Regions from separate parts of the Homo sapiens genome. Here region 2 is linked to region 1. A link means that fine-mapping ties the variant in region 1 to the expression of a gene that starts in the linked region. Tissue or cell type: whole blood. Region 1 holds a variant in brackets; the other region holds the start of a gene. All regions are shown on one strand. Distances are between the middles of the regions.

The links. PIP is the estimated chance that this variant, and not a neighbour inherited with it, causes the effect.
Region 2: it holds the start of GPN1, and the variant in region 1 is fine-mapped to the expression of GPN1 in whole blood (TOPMed, PIP 0.94).

Annotation. Positions count from the first base shown.
Region 1 is chr2:27,641,428-27,652,786 of GRCh38, reverse strand. It overlaps GPN1 (GPN-loop GTPase 1), which reads right to left. Exons shown (of 14, transcript NM_007266.4): 12 at 10,268-10,358; 13 at 4,844-4,951; 14 at 1,276-2,672. The coding sequence ends at 2,587. SUPT7L (SPT7 like, STAGA complex subunit gamma) reads left to right here. Exons shown (of 6, transcript NM_014860.3): 6 at 1-1,978. LOC124906143 (small nucleolar RNA SNORA36 family) reads left to right here and starts at 10,618; the gene lies at 10,618-10,744. RefSeq lists an enhancer at 1-180. The variant A/C (reference allele first, on the strand shown) is at 2,677.
Region 2 is chr2:27,622,794-27,631,782 of GRCh38, reverse strand. GPN1 (GPN-loop GTPase 1) reads right to left here and starts at 2,733. Exons shown (of 14, transcript NM_007266.4): 1 at 2,614-2,733; 2 at 1,831-1,924; 3 at 717-756. The coding sequence starts at 2,724. CCDC121 (coiled-coil domain containing 121) reads left to right here and starts at 2,771. Exons shown (of 2, transcript NM_024584.5): 1 at 2,771-2,833; 2 at 3,866-6,145. The coding sequence starts at 3,984. The coding sequence ends at 4,820. It overlaps ZNF512 (zinc finger protein 512), which reads right to left. Exons shown (of 14, transcript NM_032434.4): 14 at 8,566-8,989. RefSeq lists enhancers at 2,489-2,588, 2,629-2,938, 2,999-3,058 and a silencer at 3,507-3,801.

The sequences.
Region 1 (11,359 bases):
ACTTTCACCATATACATATTTTCAATTGTTTCTTTCCTTTTCTCCTTTGTGAGCAAAGCAAACAAGTACTGTCCAAGGACAGCCTTGTGCATATTTCATTTGTTGCATTTGCTTGGTCATCAGAGGACAGCAGTCCATTAAGCACACTTTGCTGCTTCTACTGTAAAGGCAGCCTTTAAAACATAGCAATATGCACCTTTCAACTTTACATCATGTCCTGAACAACATCACTGTGGTTACTCATCCATCAGACTATCTGTATATATAAGTACTGAATCAGTATTTATTAAGTAAATGATGTAGCACTGTAGTGATTAGGAATCATTAGCAAATGTGTTGCTTCATGCCTTGGTGATGGATGCCAGCATGTTAAACTGCTGAAGTTTGATTTTCTGATGCAAAATATATCTTGTAAAATTTAGACCACTCCTTTAATGCAGACCAAAATAAGGCACAGCTTTAATTCATTATTGAATGCCTTAAATGTCCCAGGTATTGAGAATAAATGAATATGATACAAATGAGGTTATAGTTTAACATATAATTTTAAATTTGCCAATTGTAACTCTTTAGCACATTTCTCTAAACCCTTTCTGTCACAGTCTTTTTTTTAATTTATTTATTTATTTATTTATTTTTGAGATGGAGTCTTGCTCTGTCACCCAGGCTGGAGTGCAATGGTGCAATTTCGACTCACTGCAACCTCTGCCTCCCAGGTTCAAGCGATTCTCCTGCCTCAGCCACCTGAGTAGCTGGGATTACACGCACATGCCACCACACCCAGCTAATTTTTGCATTTTTAGTAGAGATGAGGTTTCACCGTGTTGGCCAGGCTGGTCTCAAAACTCCTGACCTCAAGTGATCTGCCCGCCTCGGGCTCCCAAAGTGCTGGGATTACAGGCGTGAGCCACTGCACCTGGCCTCTGTTGCAGTCTTATCTTCATTTTCCTTTGTTTATAATGAAAGTGGCGATTAGGCAGTTAGTTTCCATAAAGTGGCCGTATGGGAATTTAGTTCATTCATCCAGCAAACATTGAGTACCAATTATTTGCTAGGTCCTGTGCAAGGAATACAAAAATGATTAAGACTTCTTCCTTACCCTTTTGGAGCTTGAAGCATAAGGAAGACAAGTTATTCTGTAAGGAAGATAAAGCATTCAAAAGTACTACAGAGAAAAACCAAGTATGCTTGAGTTTTGCGAATGTTCTCCTCTTAAAGAATAGCTTCAAATTTTGAGACCAGTGGTTCCCACTAAGTATAGAACATTAAAATTAATACTTTATAATAAAACACTTTTATTGCTGCAGAATGTTAAACTGCATAACAGGCACCAGATGGTCAAGACGAGGGAAATATGAGAAGGCAAATGATGTGAGGATTAGTATCTTGAGATTCACCTGGTCTGGAATTATGTCATAGGCTACTATGCATCAGAATCACATGGAGGGCTTTCTAAAACAGACTGCTCAGCCCACCCCCAGGGTTTCTGAGTTCATAGGTTATAAGAGGTAAGTTGAACAATTCCCCAGATGATGCTGATGCTCCTGGTCCACAATGTGAGAACCACTAAGTTGGAGTACTGACTCATAGAGATAAAATTCTTTGAAAGAAATGTACTGTTTTAAGATACTGTAAAATGTGGAGGCAGGGCAAACGTTTATAAGGGCTGTTATGTATGAAATGTGCCTCTGACCCAAATCCACGGACTTTGCGAAAATCACCAAGGAGACTTTGCATTAAGTTCAGAGTACAATACAAACTGGGCCTAGCTCTGTATTTAGTCAGTATGTGCACGTGGGAAACTTTAGTAAAATATCACCTCCTTATTGAGACAAGTTTGGACATCTGGCCTTAAGCCTCTGTTGAACAGGAGAAGTGAAGCTGTTTGCAATTATATAATTTTCTAATTTGAAATCATGACAAGCAGTCTTAGAACAAAGTTAAAATTAAAAAGTCTTTATCCAAGTCACCAATGAAACAGGATTCTGATTCATTAATCATGTCTTGCCCACTTTTTTCAACAAACCTGACGTCCTATAATGAGCTATACAGTGTGAGGCATATTTCATAGCAACGTTGGTTGATTGCCAAGGAGACTCTGCCACCGTTCTGGATAAGCTCATGTTTCCCTTTTCCTTGGCTGCTAATAGAAGGGCAACTTACAGTGCAGGGTCAAGAGCAAGAAGCTGGGGGAGTAGAGGCTATACATCTAGCCTAATAATAGAGATCTGAGGTGGTCACCAGGAGACTACGTTCTTTTGATTCCATTCCTCAGCAGCAAAAGTACTTGAGTTCAAATGATAAAACTTGAAGTTGTAGGCTTGGAAGAGTATCAGCTCAGTATATCCTTCCTTGCATAAATACAAGGGAAAGGCCAAGGAATAATCAGCATTAACCTGCCAGGTCCAAGGGTCTTCTATCCCTGACTTCATCTGAGTCACAAGATTTCTCTAATAAGAGAAACTTTGCTACTCTGAGGAAAATTATCCCTTATGGGAGCCCCCAGTTCAGAGGTAAGAACAGTTCTTTCACGTGGAGGTCCAAAATTCTGGACTTCTAGAAACAAGTGAAGTGTGCTAAAGTCTCCTATTTATTGTTTCTCTTCCAGTATTGTGCCATCGATTCTTGCATAAAATTCTGGAATGCTGGCTCTTCATGGCTTTCCTCTGTAACTGC[A/C]AGGAAAAAAGGGCAATTCTTTTTCAACTCTTTCATTAGACAAACTGATTAGAGCCCGTCACCCATCCATCAGAAAACAGTACATTACTTCTAAGAAACTTAAGTACTCACTTCCCTCAAAAAGGAAATGTCTCCTAGAAGCATGCTCTATCATGCTGCCCAAAATGTAGTTTCTTTATAAGTAGAAAGAATACCTCCCTCATAGTAGCTAAAATAAGGTCCCACTTGTAGGTATTTTTAACCAAGAGAAATGAAAACATACGTCTACACAAAGATCTATTTGGAAACGTTTATAGTTGCTTTACTCATAATAGCTAAAATCTACCCAAATATCAGTCCACTGGGGAATGGATAAACAAACTGTGGAACATCCACAATAATGGAATATCACTCAGCAATAAAAAAGAACATACTGATACATGCAACAACATGGAGAGACTACACTACTGAGTCAAAAAAGTCAAATGCAAAAGGCTAAATACTGTGATTCTATTTCTATGGCATTCTGGAAAAGGCAAGATCAAAGGAACAGAAATCAGTCAGTGGTTGCCAGGCACTAGGTGTTCAGGATGGGGACTGAAAAAAAAGGGGCATGAGGAAGTTTTGGGGGGTGAGGGAAGTGCTCTACATTTCAACTGTGATTGTGGTTACAAGAAAGTATATATTTATTAAAGCTCATCAAACTATATACTCAAAAAGTGAGTTTCACTGTTGGTAAACTACATCTTAAAAAATCTGATTAAATAAGGCAATTTACATGTAAAACCCAGCCTAAAGAATAAGGAGATTTGCTCTTGGCCATAGCTAAGACCTAAATCGTATGGTGGTTTTCGTGTTTTTTTGTTTGTTTGTTTGTTTGTTTTTTGAGATCAAGTTTCACTCTTGTTACCGAGGCCTGAGTGCAATGGTGAGCTCTCAGTTCACTGCAGCCTCCGCCTCCCAGGTTCAAGCAGTCCTCCTGCCTCAGCCTCCCAAGTAGCTGGGATTACAGGTGCCTGCCACCAAGCCCAGCTAATTTTTTGTACTTGTAGTAGAGATGGGGTTTCACCATGTTGGTCAGGCTGGTCTTGAACTCCTGGCCTCAGGTGATCCGCCCACCTTGGCTCTCAAAGTGCTGGGATTACAGACGTGAGCCACCGTGCCCGGCCTATGGTTGTTTCAAGAATCAGATTCTGGCAGGGCATGGTGGCTCATGCCTGTAATCCCAGCACTTTGGGAGGCCGAGATGGGCGGATCACTTGAGGCCAGGAGTTCGAGACCAGCCTGGCCAACATGGCGAAACCCCGTCTCTACTAAAAATATAAAAAATTAACCAGCTGTGATGGCATGTGCCTGTGGTCCCAGCTACTCTGGAGGCTGAAGTGGGAGAATCACTTGAACCCGGGAGGCAGCGGTTGCAGTCAGCTGAGATCGTGCCACTGCACTCCAGCCTGGGCAATGAAGCAAAACTCTGTCTCAAAAAAATAATAGTAACAATTAGATTCTGCGCACAGTCCATAAAACTATGCCAAGTGGAATTTGGGTTTCCAGAGCCATTCTATCCTTACTGTTTTAGTCCATATAACCTTATGTATTATTTGTGTTTTTTGTTTTTGAGATGGTCTTACTCTGTCACCCAGCCTGGAGTTCTGTGGCACAGTCATAGCTCATAATAGCCTCAAACTTCTGGGCTCAAGCAACCCACCCACCTCAGCCTCCCAAACAGCTTGAACTACAGGTGTGAGTAACCATGCCCAGCTATTTTTTTCTTTTTTGTAGAGAGTGGGACTAACTATGTTGCCCAGGCTTGTCCAGAACTCCTGGCCTCAAGCAATCCTCCTGACTTGGCCTCCCAAAGCAGTGGGATTACAGGCATGAGCCACCACACCCAGCCCTTACATATTCTTAAAACAAAATACTAATAACAACAAACAAAAGTCCTGGATCCCTCAAACCAAGTTAGGACCTAAAGATAAGAAGACACAAGACCAACGAAAGGCCTGTAATCAGCTCAGTATTAACCATCCAGTAGGCAGGACAGGAACTCTCAATATAGGAAACTCTTTTCTGGTGCTGTATCCTTTATCCACTATTACTGGCTACACGCTTAAAGCAAGAAACTCCTGGGCAAACAATGTGAGGATAAGCAGATGCTCTGTTGCCACGGGCCACCTCAGCCACCTCTCACCTCTGTGGTCAATGTCATCAGTATCGCTGTCTGCTTCCTCATCCTCTTCATCCAAGGTTCCTCGAGTCAGGATCAAATCAGAAGGGTGCAGCACAGGAGATAAGCTGTCTACAGTGAAAACACCTATCAGTGATATGCCTCCTCAAAAAGGTGATCTTGAATCACTAAGTAACTATGATCATAAACTGGCAGGATGAAAGTGCTCATGATACATATAAACGCAGGATCTTACCTCTTCTAAATGTATTGTTAATACCACTTAACATTTCTATAATAGCTTAGTTCACAAAGTGCTTTCATAAGGCAAATAGCCCTAGGAGTCCCATTTTTTTAAGCTGAGGGAAATAATTTTCAAGAAGCTTGTCTTACTAGTAGCATCATTCTTTTTTACTGGCTCACAGCTTGGAAGGGGTGATGGTTTTTCCTATGAAAGCTAACAACATTTGAGCAGATCCAGTGTGCTGGTGAGTCACAGTGAAAGTGTGGAGTGCTAAGGAAGCCTCCTGGTGGAAATGTAAGTTCAGAGAAGGTCTGCAGAAAATACAGGGTGAAATGTTATCAAGGAGCCAGGGTATTATTTAAGAAGAGGAGGGAGGGGAAAAATAGAAAATCAAATACACTAATAGAAGTAAAATTCCCTATTCAGAAAAACTAGTGAGGGCTGAGCTCCAGTAATCAGAGAGAAGTCTAATCAAGTCACTACTGCCATGGGAGGACATAGTCACTCTCTCTTCAGGAGCCTATGAGGCTTGCGAGAGCTCAGCTAGGGAATAAGGGTGGCCAGAGACAGCAACATCAACTGGCACAAATCTCAAGGGGCCTGTGGGCCTGAAAAAGGAGGATGACAGGACATGCTGACAGTAAATGCTTCATTCTGTGCCTAACAATTATGCAACTATACTTGTGACTTTCCTCAAATGATTTACTTAAACTCTCCCAACCTTCAACAGGTTAGCTGACTACAGCAGACCCTTTGCAGCAGTAGTTTTAACATTGACTTCACATATTCAGAAGTGATTCTAAAGGACTGTGGCACATAGAAATGTATTTTGCTGAGCTGTACAACAGGATGGCACAAGTGAGTACACTTAACTGGTAAACCCAGTCCGTTACTAGCTTTGCTGTTCTCTACTAGATATAGAGCAATAACTTTCATGAACAGAAGCATCACTCCTTTAAGAAAGATGTCCCAGAAAAAAAAAATGCTAGTGTTGCTGATGAGAAGAAAAAATAAATGTACAATTTATTACAATAAATAAATAAATGGAGCTTTTCTTTTAAGTACAGTCAATTTGGTTGCAGGATTCCACTAAGCTGCAATAGACTTGCATCTGAATCTTGAGGGCAGTCCCTCAATATACAGGGGTGGGGGTGGAAGGTGGGCTGTAAATGAAAACTAACCTAAAAACCCCTGCAGAGCCAATGATAAAACTAAAAAAAAATTTTTAATTCAGTAAAGTAGCAGGATAAAAGATGAATATACAGAAATCAAAAGCCTTCATACATACAAACATAAACCAGTTATAAGATGTAACGGTCCAGAAAATCCCATTTTCAACAGTAATGAAGAAGGTTAAATACTTAGAATAAATTTCAAGCTGGGGCTGGGCATGGTGGCTCATGCCTGTAATCCCAGCACTTTGGGAGGCTGAAATGGGCAGATCACCTGAGGTCAGGAGTTCAAGACCAGCCTGGCCAACATGGCAAAACCCTGTCTCTACTAAAAATGCAAAAATTAGCTGGGCGTGGTGGCATGTGCCTGTAGTCCCAGCTACACAGGAGGCTGAGGCACAACAATCGCTTGAACCCGGGAGGCGGAGGTTGCAGTGAGCCGAGATCGCGCCATTGCACTCCAGCCTAGGTGACAGAGCAAGACTCTGCCTCAAAAATAAATACATACATACATAAATTTCAAGCTGGGTACAGTGGTTCACACCTGTAATCCCAGTACTTTGGGTGGCTGAGGTGGGCAGATCACTTGAGCCCAGGAGTTCGAGACCAGCCTGGGCAACACGGCAAAACCTCATCTCCACTAAAAATACAAAATTTAGCCCGGCATGGTGGCAGGCACCTCTAGTTCCAGCTACTTGGGAGGCTGAGGCAGGAGAATAGCTTGAACCCAGGAGGCAGAGGCTGCAGTGAGCCAAGATCACACCACTGCACTCCAGTTGGGGTGACAGAGCAAGACCCTGTCTCAAAACAAATACATAAAGATGATTTGTTTTAAAAAAAAAAAATTAAAAAGAAACAGGCAAAAACTCTTGGTCAAAAAGGTTGGCTAAAATAACAAAAACATTTTAAAAAGAAATAAGAAAAACCTATATATGGAAAACTGGAAACACTCCTGAAAGACACAAGTAGACCTGACAAATACAAAGACACTCTGTGGTCTTGGGTAGCAAGACTGAACATCATAGAGATGTCACTTCTCCCTAAATTAATTATGAATATAATGTAATCCCAACTAAAATACCAAAAAGCTTTTTTAAGGAACTAGATAAAGTTGATACTCAGTTCATATGGAAGAACATGTAAGGACAGCCAAATAAAAATTAGGAGGAGAATCTGATCTAGCAGATATTGAAACATAATTACATAATTAAAACAACATGGTACAGGCATAAAAGTAAGGAGTCCTTGCTCACCAAAGCAAGTTAAAAGAAAAAAAAAATGGGCTGGGGATGGTGGCTTATGCCTATGATCCCAACACCTTGGGAGGCCAAGACAGGAGGACTGCCTGAGGCCAAGAGTTCAAGACCAGCCTGGGCAACATGGTGAGACCTCGTCTCTATTAAAAATTTCCTTAAAACTAGCCAGACGTGGTGGCACACACCTGTAGATCTAGCTACTCTGGAGGCTGAGACAGGGGGAATGCTTGAGCCCAGTAGTTCGAGGCTGCAGGGAGCTATGATTGCGCCACTGCACTCCAGCCTGGGTGACAGAGTGAGAAACTATCTCAAAAAAAATAAATAAATAAACAGTCCAGTGAAATAATATAGAAGTATACTCAAGTATGCATGGAACTTTACTACATTTAGAGATGAGGTCTGAGGCTGGTCTGGAACATTATACACGTAGCATCTCAAATCGCTGTTACAAGCCAGGTGCAGTGGCATACACCTATCCAAACTAGTTGGCAGGCTGAGATGGAAAAATCGCTTGAGCCCAGGAGGTCCAGACCAGCCTCAGACCTCATCTGTAAAAAAAAAAAAAAAAAAAACACTACCAAAAAAAAAACTCACTAAGGCAAAGGCAGACTTTTAAATAAATCATACAGATACAACTATTTATGAAAAAAATAACACCGACTTATATACCTTATACTATAGCCAGGAATAAACTCTAAATTAATCGGGGATCTCAATTTAGAAAATAAAACCAGACAAATCTATAAAAAAAAATAGGTGAATTCCTCTTTAACATAGGTATATATAGAGGCTTCCTAACTGTGACTTAAAATCCCAGATGCAATAAAAGATAGATCAATTTGACTACATCAAAACAAAATAAGAACTTTTGCATGGCAAAATAACACCGTGAACAAAGTCAAAGGATAACTGATAGGGAGAAAATATTAAACATTTGCAACATATAATCACAGAAAAATTGATATTCCTATTATATCAATGGATATTAAAACTAATGGGTGAACATTAGAAAACTAAAAGGATATTTATAGTCTCAAAGCATCACCCCACAAAATTCTTATTACAAACAGAAAAACAGCCATATTTAAAAATAGTAATTTTTGTTGTTGTTGTTTTTAAGATGGAGGGAGTCTCACTCTGTCACCCAGGCTGGAGTGCAGTGGCGCGATCTTTGCTCACTGCAACTTCTGCCTCCCGGGTTCAAGAGACTCTCCAGCCTCAGCGAGTAGCTGGAATTACAGACATGCACGACCACGCCCAGCTAATTTTTTGTATTTTTAGGAGAGATGGGGTTTCACCATGTTGGCCAGGCTGGTCTCGAATTCCTGACCTCAAGTGATCCACCCGCCTCGGCCTCCCAAAATGCTGGGATTACAGGCGTGAGCCACTGCGCCCGGCCTAAAAATAGTAATTCTTTATGAAAAACGTAGCATACACCACTTTATAAAAATACTCAAAGTTAACATCACCAGTAATGGGACAAATCAACATCACGTGCCTCCCAATGTGATTCCTTGAAAAAACACAATTCAAAAATTAGTCACCTGAATCAAATCATGAGGAAACATGAGACAAACCTAAACTGAAGGATGCTCTATAAAATAACTATCCTACATGCTTAAAAAATGTCAGTCATGAAATACAAAGTCAGACTAAGGCACTGTTCCAGATTCTAAAGGAGTATAAGGCATGTGAGAATTAAATACAATGCACATCCAGATTTTCTCCTGCTATCATGGGGAAATGGCTACATCTGAATAAGATCTATATGTTAGCTAATATTATAGTATTATGTCAATGTTAATTTCCTGATTTCTGATAACTGCACTGAGGTTATATAAAATTATATCCTTGTTTTTAGGAAAAAGACACTGAATTATTCAAGGTAAAAGAGTATTATATCTGTAACTTACTCAAATGATTCAGGAAAAATATATATTTATATAACATATAAAGTCATATATAGATAAAGAATAAAGTAAACATGGTAGAATGTTAACATTTTGGGAATCTGATAGAATAATTATGGCAATTATTTGTATTATTCATGTAACTTCTGTAAATCTGAAATTAAGGTCAAACTGTAAAAAAAAAAAAATTTTTTTTAATTATAAAAAAAATTGAGGAGGGTTAAAAGTGTTAGAAACAAACAAAAAAAACCACCACAGCACACATCAAGTATATTGCCAAAGTAAAGCAAAAACTTCCTGAAAGAGGAACCCAAAGTGGTAGAGCTGTATATAATTTCAAATTTGCCTTTCCAAATCCTTTATTTTTTAATATATATGTATGCATATGTATGTGTGTGTGTGTGTGTGTGTGTGTGTGTGTGTGTGTATATATATATATATAAAACCACATTTCCTTTATCTTTTTCTCTTTCTCTCTCTCATATATAAACAGAATCCTGCTGATAGAAATAAGTGTAACCGGCCAGGCACAGTGGCTCATGCCTGTAATCCCAGCATTTTGGGAGGCCCAGGTGGGTGGATCATCTGAGGTCAGGAGTTCGAGACCAGCCTGACCAACATGGAAAAAACCCCATCTCTACTAAAAATACAAAATTAGCCGGGTGTGGTGGCACATGCCTGTAATCCCAGCTACTCAGGAAGGCTGAGGCAGGAGAACTGCTTGAACCTGGGAGGTGGAGGTTGTGGTGAGCCGAGACTCCAGCCTGGGCAACAAGAGTGAAACTCCGTCTCAAAAATAAATAAATAAATAAAAGAAAGAAGTGTAACCTTTTTTTAGTTCCTAACACCAAGAAACCCTCCAATACCTTTGGCAGTCCCTGCATCCAAGGCTACAGAACCCATATCTTTTCGAAGGCGTTCCAGTTGTTCTCTCTGCTGTTGGCTCTCTGCGTTGGCCTGTATATACAGAGAAAAATGTCATCATATTCAAAAAGGAGTCCCAAATTAGATGCCAGACTTCTCAGTGGAGATGAAGAATTATACAAATACTAGAGGCTACATAAAAACTGATGCAGATAAGGGACGTCTGGTATAGGGACAGAAACACTAAGTAGCGTGGGCCTGGGTTACTGCAGAAGTTTAGACTGGAGGGCTCTGCAGACTGATTTAGAGGGTTCAGAAACGGAACACAAAAAGGTTTCAAAAGAACCCTCAATTCTAAAGTGTTGAGTTCAGTCCAGGGTGGATCCCCTGCTCTGTTAATTGAACTGGAACATTTAAACTGGCTAGGCAAAATGCCTACATAGAAAGCATTACTCTTTATTCATCCCCAGCCTACAAAATGAAAAAACAAAAGATACAATAAACTTTATTATATGGGGGAAAAAAAACACAAAAACCTGAAGTAGACATAGCAGGAAGGCTCAGAGACAAAGGATCCAATGAGCCTAAGGAAGCAGGACACTCGATCATTTGGGATAAGAGAAGGCTGGGCATGGTGGCACCTGCCTGTAATCCTAGCACTACAGGAGGCCCAGCAGGGAGGACTGCAGGAGCTCAGGAATTTGAGACCAGCCTGGGCAACACGGTGAGACCTTGTCTATACAAAAAATTTACAAAATAAAATTAGCCAGGCATGTGGTACATACATGTTGTCCTAGCTACTCGGGTGGCTGAGATGGGAGGATCGCTTAAGCCCAAAAGGTCGAGGCTGCAGTGAGCCGCGATCGTGCCACTGCACTCTGGCATGGGTGACAGAGTGAGACCCTTTCTCAACAACAAGAAAAGGAGTTGTGAAGCACCACTACACTCTTATACAAAATTCTACAACTAGCTTTAAATTGACCTCTGAAAGGGAAGAAACATTAAGGAGACTTTCCGCACCCAGACAACATACATACAAATTTACAAATTTAAATTAACAAGTATTTAGAAGATACACTGAAATTTCATTAGCC
Region 2 (8,989 bases), 20 kb after region 1:
CATACCTAGGCTATCATTCACACAAACGGCATTATGAAATTAGTGTTCCATTAATGGATACTGGCAACCTAATCCTTGACTACCATACAAACTTAACCACACAGGGAAACAGTCATTATCAAGGTCTGGCTCACTCATTTGATTTAAGGAGTGGTCAGGCAAAATGAAGAAAGCAAAGTGACCAAAATGTAATACAGGTGCATCAGGCAGTGACAGCCCACTGGCATTGGTCATTAAGGCCACCTGTATAACACCTCCGGCTCTGATCCTCATAAATAAACCAAGCAATCTGCTGATTATGATTAGTCTTCCTACTTAGACTTGCCTACGGAGAGAGTACACATTTCATACAGCAATTTACTAAGAGTTAATCCAACTAAACTCACTCATTTCTGAGTTTCCCAGTCTAAAGAGGTGGTGACCAACAGATGATCCTCCAAGGCAAAATACTACCTTGTGGGACCCAGGTAGCTGTCAGTTATCCTATCATACTCTCTGCTCTTTAATTACAACAGCCTGCCATCTGGGGAGATGGTAAGAAAACTAAAATCTCAAGCTGAAATAGTATTTCTGATCACCTACCTCTCCCACAATCAGCTTCCATCCTTTTGCTTGTATATTTCACAAGGAAAAGGCAAAAACACTCTTTCAAGCCACAAAATACACAGACAAGAAGCCAGGAATGAGTCAAGACCAAAGTAGATGGAAAAGGATACTGTTTCATTACTTCTTTATACTTTACAGTATCACGAATATCTGAGGAGAAAAAAAAGAATTAACTGGAATGTAATACATACACATTCCCTACCACCAGGAAAGTAAAACTGGCCTTCTAGCCTTCTCCTGTCAGCATTCTCTTCTACCACCTCCACTTTCACACTGGTTTCCTTCCTTACAAAGAATAAATGCCAAGTAAATCATGAAGAATGTTAGGGCTAGGAGCTCTAAAGTTGTGGCAAAGAGTTTTGTCTCCACAAAGTGCAAAGTTTCATGCAACTTAAACATGCCTAGAAAAAGGGAGGCAAAAATCAAGGGGGAAAAAATGCTTCTTACTAATTGCCTATTACTGACAAAGGCAACACAATGGCAATGCAGACATGATTTTTTAAAAGGAGTTAGGCTGGGCACAGTGGCTCACACCTATAATCCCAGCACTTTGGGAGGCCAAGGCAGGAGGATTACTTGAGCCCAGGAGTTCAAGACCAGCCTGGGCAACATAGAGAGGCCTTGTCTCTCCAAACAAAACAAAACTAGCCCAGCATAGCGGCAGGAGGCTGAGGTGGGAGGATCACTTGAGCCTGGGATGTTGAGGCTGCAGTGACCTGTGAATCACGCCACTGCACTCTGGCCTGGGTGACAGAGACTCTGTCTAAAAAAAAAAAAAAAAAAAAAAAAACCTAAGCTGTTTAGGAATGCAAGCAAATCCAAAGGAAATGAAAGTAGATAGTTTAGAAAACATGAAAAAAGAAGGCACTGAAGACTGGCAGGCTGGAGGCTTTACAGAGTCTCACTCTATTGACCAGGCTGGAGTGCAGTGGCACGATCTTGGCTCACTGCAACCTCTGCCACCCGGGTTCAAGCAACTCTCCTGCCTCAGCCTCCCGAGTAGCTGGAATTACAGGTGCCTGCCACCGTGCCTGGCTAATTTTTTGTATTTTTAGTAGAGATGGAGTTTCACCATCTTGGCCAGGCTGGTCTTGAACTCCTGACCTCGTGATCTACCTGCCTCGGCCTCCCAAAGTGCTGAGATTACAGCCGTGAGCCACCACGCCTGGCCTTTTCCATTCTCTTTAAAGCACTGCACACAAGTTATGTTACTGGTTTACTCACCAATATTGGCAGGAAAGGGAACTTCATGTACTGCTGGATCCAGGTTGATCACATACGGTGGAGTGCCTTGGGCATGCAGGTGTCCTGTGAGCCTCTGCAGAGATATGGGGAGAGGGTTGGAAGGAGACAAAGAGGGGACAAGAGAGAACTTCCATTCCTTTAACACCCATGCCTTAAGAATATTGCACTTAGATTTTCTTCTACCTGAAATATCCACCATGTCCACCTCCAAGATACAACTCTCAGTTCAAATGCTACCTTTCTTCATCACCCATCTAACAAAGCTTCCCCTACTCGTAGTCACTTGTTTACTTGTTTTGATTCTTCGTATGTGGGTTTTCTCTATCTCCTCCATTAAATATTTGGCCCCACGAATGAATCTTGTCAACCTCATTTTCGCTATATCCCCAGTGAATGGAACATGACAGGCGTGCAAGAAATATTTGGCAAATCTTCACCAAAACCTGTGTGCTAGCACTGTATTAATCTTTAAAGTTACTTGTAACTTGCCTCCGAGAAACGCAATTTTATCAGCAAGACAATTCCTGTACAACGTGGTAAGCTGGACCGAGTATGCCCTGAAGGTGCGCAGAAGAGAGCCTTAATTAACCTGGCTAGGGCCCGAGGAGGCTTTGCCGGGGAAGGAACTAAAGTTGATGGGAAGCCCCCGAAAGCCATGCGCCGGTACCCTCCAAATCCTCTTCCCTCCCTTTCTTCCTGGCCTTCCGCCTGCCGGAGGCAACCTTTTGCGCTCCCCTACTACACCCATGCTGTGTACGTCACCTGTACAAAAGTGGTTTTCCCGGATCCCGCCATTCCCAACACCAACAGACACACTGGGTGCCGCGGACCCCCAGAAGCCTGGAGCTCAGCGGCAGCTGCGGACGCCGCCATCTTCCTCCTGGCCCCACCCACCCGACCATAGAGACACCGCATGGGTAGAGAAACTTCCGCAATGTTCTGGGCTGCGAACGAAAACCACCACAGCGTCAGAAAGGAGCGGGTGAGGGGCGCGGCGGTTGCCAGGGCATCTTCTTAGCGTCGGGCAGGGCTGATGAGTCAACTAGTGACAGTGGCGAGGAAGTGGGGGCGCTGAGCAAGCGAGAGGAAGGCTGAAGGGAGCTAGGAAAAGGGCGCTGATCTCTGCAGCCTGGGAGGGCTTTTGTCTCCCGGAGGAAGGCCAGAAGAGATGGGGTCCCGAGGGCAGGGCTCACACAGCAAGAAAACGAGGAGCATGCCTGTCATTTTGAGCCCACAGAGAACGGGGAGCGGAGCCACTGGAGGACCGGCTGCTCGGGCTTATTCGGTAGCCGAGGCGGTTAAACAGTTCAGGGCTGGACCAGCCGGGACTGGAGCAGGGTGCAGTCTCCAGGGTTGCTGGGCAGCACCGAGACCCTTTGAGCACCGAACGAATAAACTACGGGAGCTTTCCACACTTGCACATTGTTCCCGCGAGTTGCAGACGCAGGTTCCTGATGCTAGCGCTCATTCCTTGGCAGTCACCCTCAGTGAACTACACAGTTGCCGTGACCTTCAGGATGAATGCTTGGATTCCAGGTGCAAGTAGGTACTGGAGGGGAGCTTCCTCCCCTCCAGTCACTGAAGGTCCCTCAGAAACTCAGGAAAGATGATGAAAGAGCCTAGAAAATTATTTCTACTCCTGACCACCCAGTCTGTTTCTGTGACCCTTTGTAGCTGCAAACAGTGTTCAGTAAGTCATAAGATCTGGCTTTAATACCCAGGCTCTGCCACTTGCTAGTGGTGTGAGTCATGGGCAAGTCACTTAAACTCTCTGAACCTGTTTTCTCCTTTTTTAAAACTGAGGTAATACCTCCCAGGGTTGTAGTGAATGCACGTTGTAAATGACGAGCTACATTCCTCATCCTTTACCACTAGCTGGATTCCCCACACCTTGCATAATGTCTGGAACATTCTGGTGCTCAGAAATATTCTCTTGTATGAATGAAGGACAGTTGTGCACTTACTTCCTAAAGTTTCATTAACTGACAGAGGAATGTCTCGTTTGTTCTTTCAGGTTTGCTGAGGGCCCCAGAAGGCTCCTTCCACCGTATCATAGTCTAATAAATAATTTTGTCAAGCCAGAGAAGCTAACAAAGGTAGAGACAAGGCTTAAAGAAAAGATAGTGGCGGAAATGACGGATCTGAACAAGCATATAAAACAAGCTCAAACCCAGCGGAAACAGCTACTGGAGGAATCCAGGGAGCTACACCGAGAAAAGTTACTTGTCCAGGCTGAAAACAGATTCTTTCTGGAATACCTGACTAACAAAACTGAAGAGTACACAGAGCAACCTGAGAAGGTATGGAACAGCTATTTACAAAAAAGTGGAGAGATTGAACGAAGAAGACAAGAATCAGCCTCCAGATATGCAGAACAAATTTCAGTGCTTAAAACAGCGCTCTTGCAAAAGGAAAATATCCAATCCAGTTTGAAGCGGAAGTTGCAGGCAATGAGGGACATTGCTATATTAAAGGAAAAGCAGGAGAAAGAAATACAGACATTACAGGAGGAGACAAAGAAAGTCCAAGCTGAGACAGCTTCAAAGACACGGGAAGTACAGGCCCAGCTCCTCCAGGAGAAAAGATTACTGGAGAAACAACTGAGCGAGCCAGACAGGAGGCTACTGGGAAAGAGAAAAAGAAGAGAGCTTAATATGAAGGCCCAGGCCTTGAAGTTGGCAGCAAAGCGGTTTATTTTTGAATACTCCTGTGGCATCAACAGAGAGAACCAGCAGTTCAAGAAGGAATTACTGCAGCTAATTGAGCAAGCCCAGAAACTAACGGCTACTCAAAGCCACTTAGAAAACAGGAAGCAGCAGCTGCAGCAGGAACAGTGGTATCTGGAGTCCTTAATCCAGGCGAGGCAGAGACTGCAAGGAAGTCATAATCAGTGCCTAAATAGACAGGATGTTCCAAAGACCACACCCAGTCTTCCCCAAGGCACCAAATCAAGGATTAATCCAAAGTAACTTCTAAAATAACACTGATTAAATAAGAACTGGAGCAAGTACTCTTAAGTGCTACATTAACCTGGTTAGAAAGGCTGTTGGATTCCAGATTGCTATTGTAAAATCTCCATCATGATGTGTTGGAGTGAAGGATTAGATGGTTTTATCCAACAGTCCTACTAGATATTTGGTAACCAGCTTCCCTTAACTAGCTTTTTCTTTAAATACTCGTTAATAAGCTATTCCACAAACCTCCAGTTAACCTAACACATGACCCTAACCTAGCCATTTACCATACATCAAACTAGCTAAAGGAAACCAACCTAAGGAAGTGAAAACAGTTGTGATTTATTTCATCTAGCTAAATTGTATTTCTTTATAGAGAAAGTACCTTTAAGGATAGCATTCCAAATAGACTTTGAATAGCGTTCTGCCAGTTTATCCTCATTCCTTTTGACCAACTTAGCAGACAAAAGCAGTTTTTACAAGCTCTTTGTGAGTTTGTGCCAGTGACCAGGTAGCTCCTTCTAGTTTTCTCATGAGTGAAAAAGCATTCTGATAACAGCAAGTCCAGTAAGTGCTAGGCAGAGTGACCTTTCATCTGATGCTAAGCCCCTACAAGTTTGAGAAGGTAAGAAAAGATGAAGGAGACATATATTAGGTCAGCTCTTACTTTTGAAAATGTTTTATTTGAAGAAACACCTGTAGCATTGAGGTGACTGAATGCCTCCACTTATTTCAGGAAAACGTATCCAAAAAAAGTTGAAATATTTGGACAACTTTTTTTTTAAGTGCCATCGATTTCCCTAGCAGCATTCTAAAAGATAGCAAGTAAAATGATGTTTGTTATCCTAAATGCTTTAGTTTTAGGTCATTTATTAATTTTCTTACAGGTGCACTTTCTAGTACATGAAGTATCCTTTGTAATTAATGTGTGCCATATGTTTATTCCCATTTAGTATAACTATAAATTATATTTTAAATTATATATTTTTAGGATAGTTATATTTTTTTTGGGTTCTACGACATTGAAGTTGGACTAGTGATTTATTTGAATGCTGAATCCTAGTATAGGGGAATATAATCTTATATTTTAACAGGGGTCCTCTATGGGAAAATAGGATGAACTTTGTTTCCCAGAAATTGTTAAGTGATGAAAAACTTCAAAATAATTTTCCTGCATTTTCTGCTTTATTTACATGTAAAGTGAATTCCCTGAAAATTGGATTTAAAAAGCATTCTCCTTCAATGTGCCTTTACCTTGTAGCTTTAACAACTTTTCTGTTAAATATGTAGTTTTTTATTAAACAATGTTATTAAATAAAAACATTTATCCACTGATTTTATTACTGTTCCAATGTAACACATTTTCTACTTCATCACTCTTCTGTTACCACTCTTAAATGTCTTATTCACATGTGCAAATAATAAAAACTAGTTTTAATGCAGAAATTAGGATTTTAGCATACAGGTACTTTAACCTAAATCTCAATTTGTGAGCTGAAAATACAGAAACACTGAACAAGGAAAGCATGGTATCCAAGACAAACTTGAAGGCTTAGTCTCTGTGGACGTAAAAACCCTAAGACAATGTATTTCTAAGGCTGATAAAAAGTTGGAAAGTAGGAAGCATATTAGTTCTGTTAATTCCCCTCCTGCCACTGGTGTCCCAATTATCTAATTCAAGAGTGGGTAACTTCCACCTGATCTCAGTTCATTTTTACTTATCATCCCAGGTAATGGATATGGTATACTGCTTGTGGCTGTCCCTTCCAGAGTGAGGGCTTGAAGACATTAAAAGTTGAATGATAACTGATTTCATACCTTGAAATCCATACCTCTAAGTAAGCAGCAAGTTGGCCAACTAAGATTTCAATCTGCATTTTGTCTGCTTTGCTATTTAGAAAATTACACAGGGTTATGTTACAGAAAGTGAGTTTAGATGGAAAAGACCTCTGAGGTGAAATTTAAGACCTATGATTGCTAAAATGAAGCCTACAATGCAAAAACTGGGGAAGAAACTATTCTAGGCAGAGGCAACAGTGAATGCAAATGCCTTAAGATGGCAATAAGCTTGGTAGGTTCAAGGAACAGAAAGGTGTGTATGTAAAGTATAGTTGAGGAATGGTCACAGAACATGAGTGGAGGAAAGGAAGATGAGGCTATTAAGGCTAGCAGGAGTTTAGGCACCGAGGGCCTTTAGCAGGTGAATGAGGTCTGATTTACCTAATTTTAAAAACTACAACTGTTATGTGGAGTGTATCCAAGCCAGAAAAAAGTGGAAGGAAACCAATTACGAAGATACTGTAGTCTAGGCAAGAGGTAATGATGGCTTAGATTGGAATGGCAGAAGTAGAGTGAACAGATTCAAAATGTAGTTGGTGGTAGGCAGGACTTGCTAATGGATTTGCTATAAGAAGAGAGAGATGAAGCAAGAGTAAATTTCTAAAATGTTCTCTTTTAAGGAGATGTGCAGAATATTCTTTGTATTTTTTTAGACGGTCTCACTGTGTCACGCAGGCTGGAGTGCAGTAGTGTGATCACAGCTCATAGCAGCATCTTGACCTCCTGGACCCAAGAAGTCCTCCCATCTCGGCCTCCCAACTAGCTGGGACTATAGGTGCACACCACAATGCCCAGCTAATTTTTTTAATTTTTTTGTAGAGATGAGATTTCATCACATTGCCCAGGTTGGTCTAGAACTCCTGAGCTCAAGCGATCCTCCAGCCTCAGCCTCCCAAAACGTTAGGATTACAGGTGTGAGCCACTGTGCCTGGCCCCAGACATTGAGACATATTCATGATGATACGAGAAACCCTACTCAATTTTATAGCTTGTATAGTATTCTACTGTATGACTATATCACAATTTATCCATTCTGATAATGGATAATTATTGTGTATTAGAGTAGGCTAACAAAGAGACCCAAGAATGTATAATGTCTCAAATAACAGACATTTATTTCTTGCTCACTTAATAGTCTCAGATACATGTTCCTGGTTGGCAAGTGGCTCTCCTTCAACAGGTGATTCAGGGGGTCAAGATATCTTCCATTTTGTGTTCTTCCATCTCCTAGGGCCCCATCATCATCTGCATTTAGCCAGAAGAAGGGTAAAGAAAGCTTGGAGGTACACCCACTCAAAAGTTCTAACCTGCAAGTGGCATTCATCACTCCACTCACATTCCATGGGAGAGGAGTTAGCTGGCTTCTCCTTCACTAGAGAGAGTGGAGGGAAGGGGGATAACTAGGAAATATACAGTCTAGCCATTTGTTCTATAATCCCATAATTTGCAAAGGTGAAAGTAGATCTCTGATACTTGTTTTCAGTATTTCTCTACTGTAAACTGTACTGCAATAATCATTCTTTTTTGTGTCTCTTGGTACGCCTAGACAAAAGGAGTTACTCTGTGTATACCCAGGAGAGAAACTGCTAAGTCTTCGGGTACATATCTTCAACTCTGCTAGATACTGCCAAATCACTTTTGAAGTGATTGTACCAATTTGCATTCCAAACCATGTATGAAAGTTCATAATACTGTCAAACTTAGTTTGTTAGTCTAATGAATTTTTTTTAAAAAAACTTTAAAACTCAATACTGTGATTAGAATAGTCTATACTGAGTCCTGCTGATCCCTGGTCTTGGTCAGGAAAAACGAAAGGAATGCCTGCAAGAGGTCCCTGGATGAAACTGGGCAAGTTTCCTATACTAATTCACTTTAATCTCAAACTACTCATTTTAACCAGCATAATTCATGAACCAAAGAATTACTGAGACAACTGCATGTGGAATTTATTTCAAACTCACCCCCATCTCTAGCCATCTTCTTACCCCCATACAGTGTCAAGGAGTCATGCAGCAGGTCGGCGTCAAAGAACACTGGAAACATCTTTCTGAGAGTCATTTATTTCTTTTGTCATTGCCAAACATTCCCCAGGTCTTACTCACCAGAAATTAACATAGCTTCTTCATTTCTCCTCCCTGACAACCCTCATCTACTGAAAGGGCTTTAAGGGCACACTGCCAATGAAAATGCAGAGTGCATATACCATGTCCTTAACTTGTTTCAAAACTACCTATTCTGGCAGTATCCAATTCAGGTTTCAGTGCTCCCTTGTTTGAAAGTGGTCTTCACAAAAGCCCACATTTTAAAGCTATTTGGAGGAGCACAAAGAGTTAAAGTGGTAATAG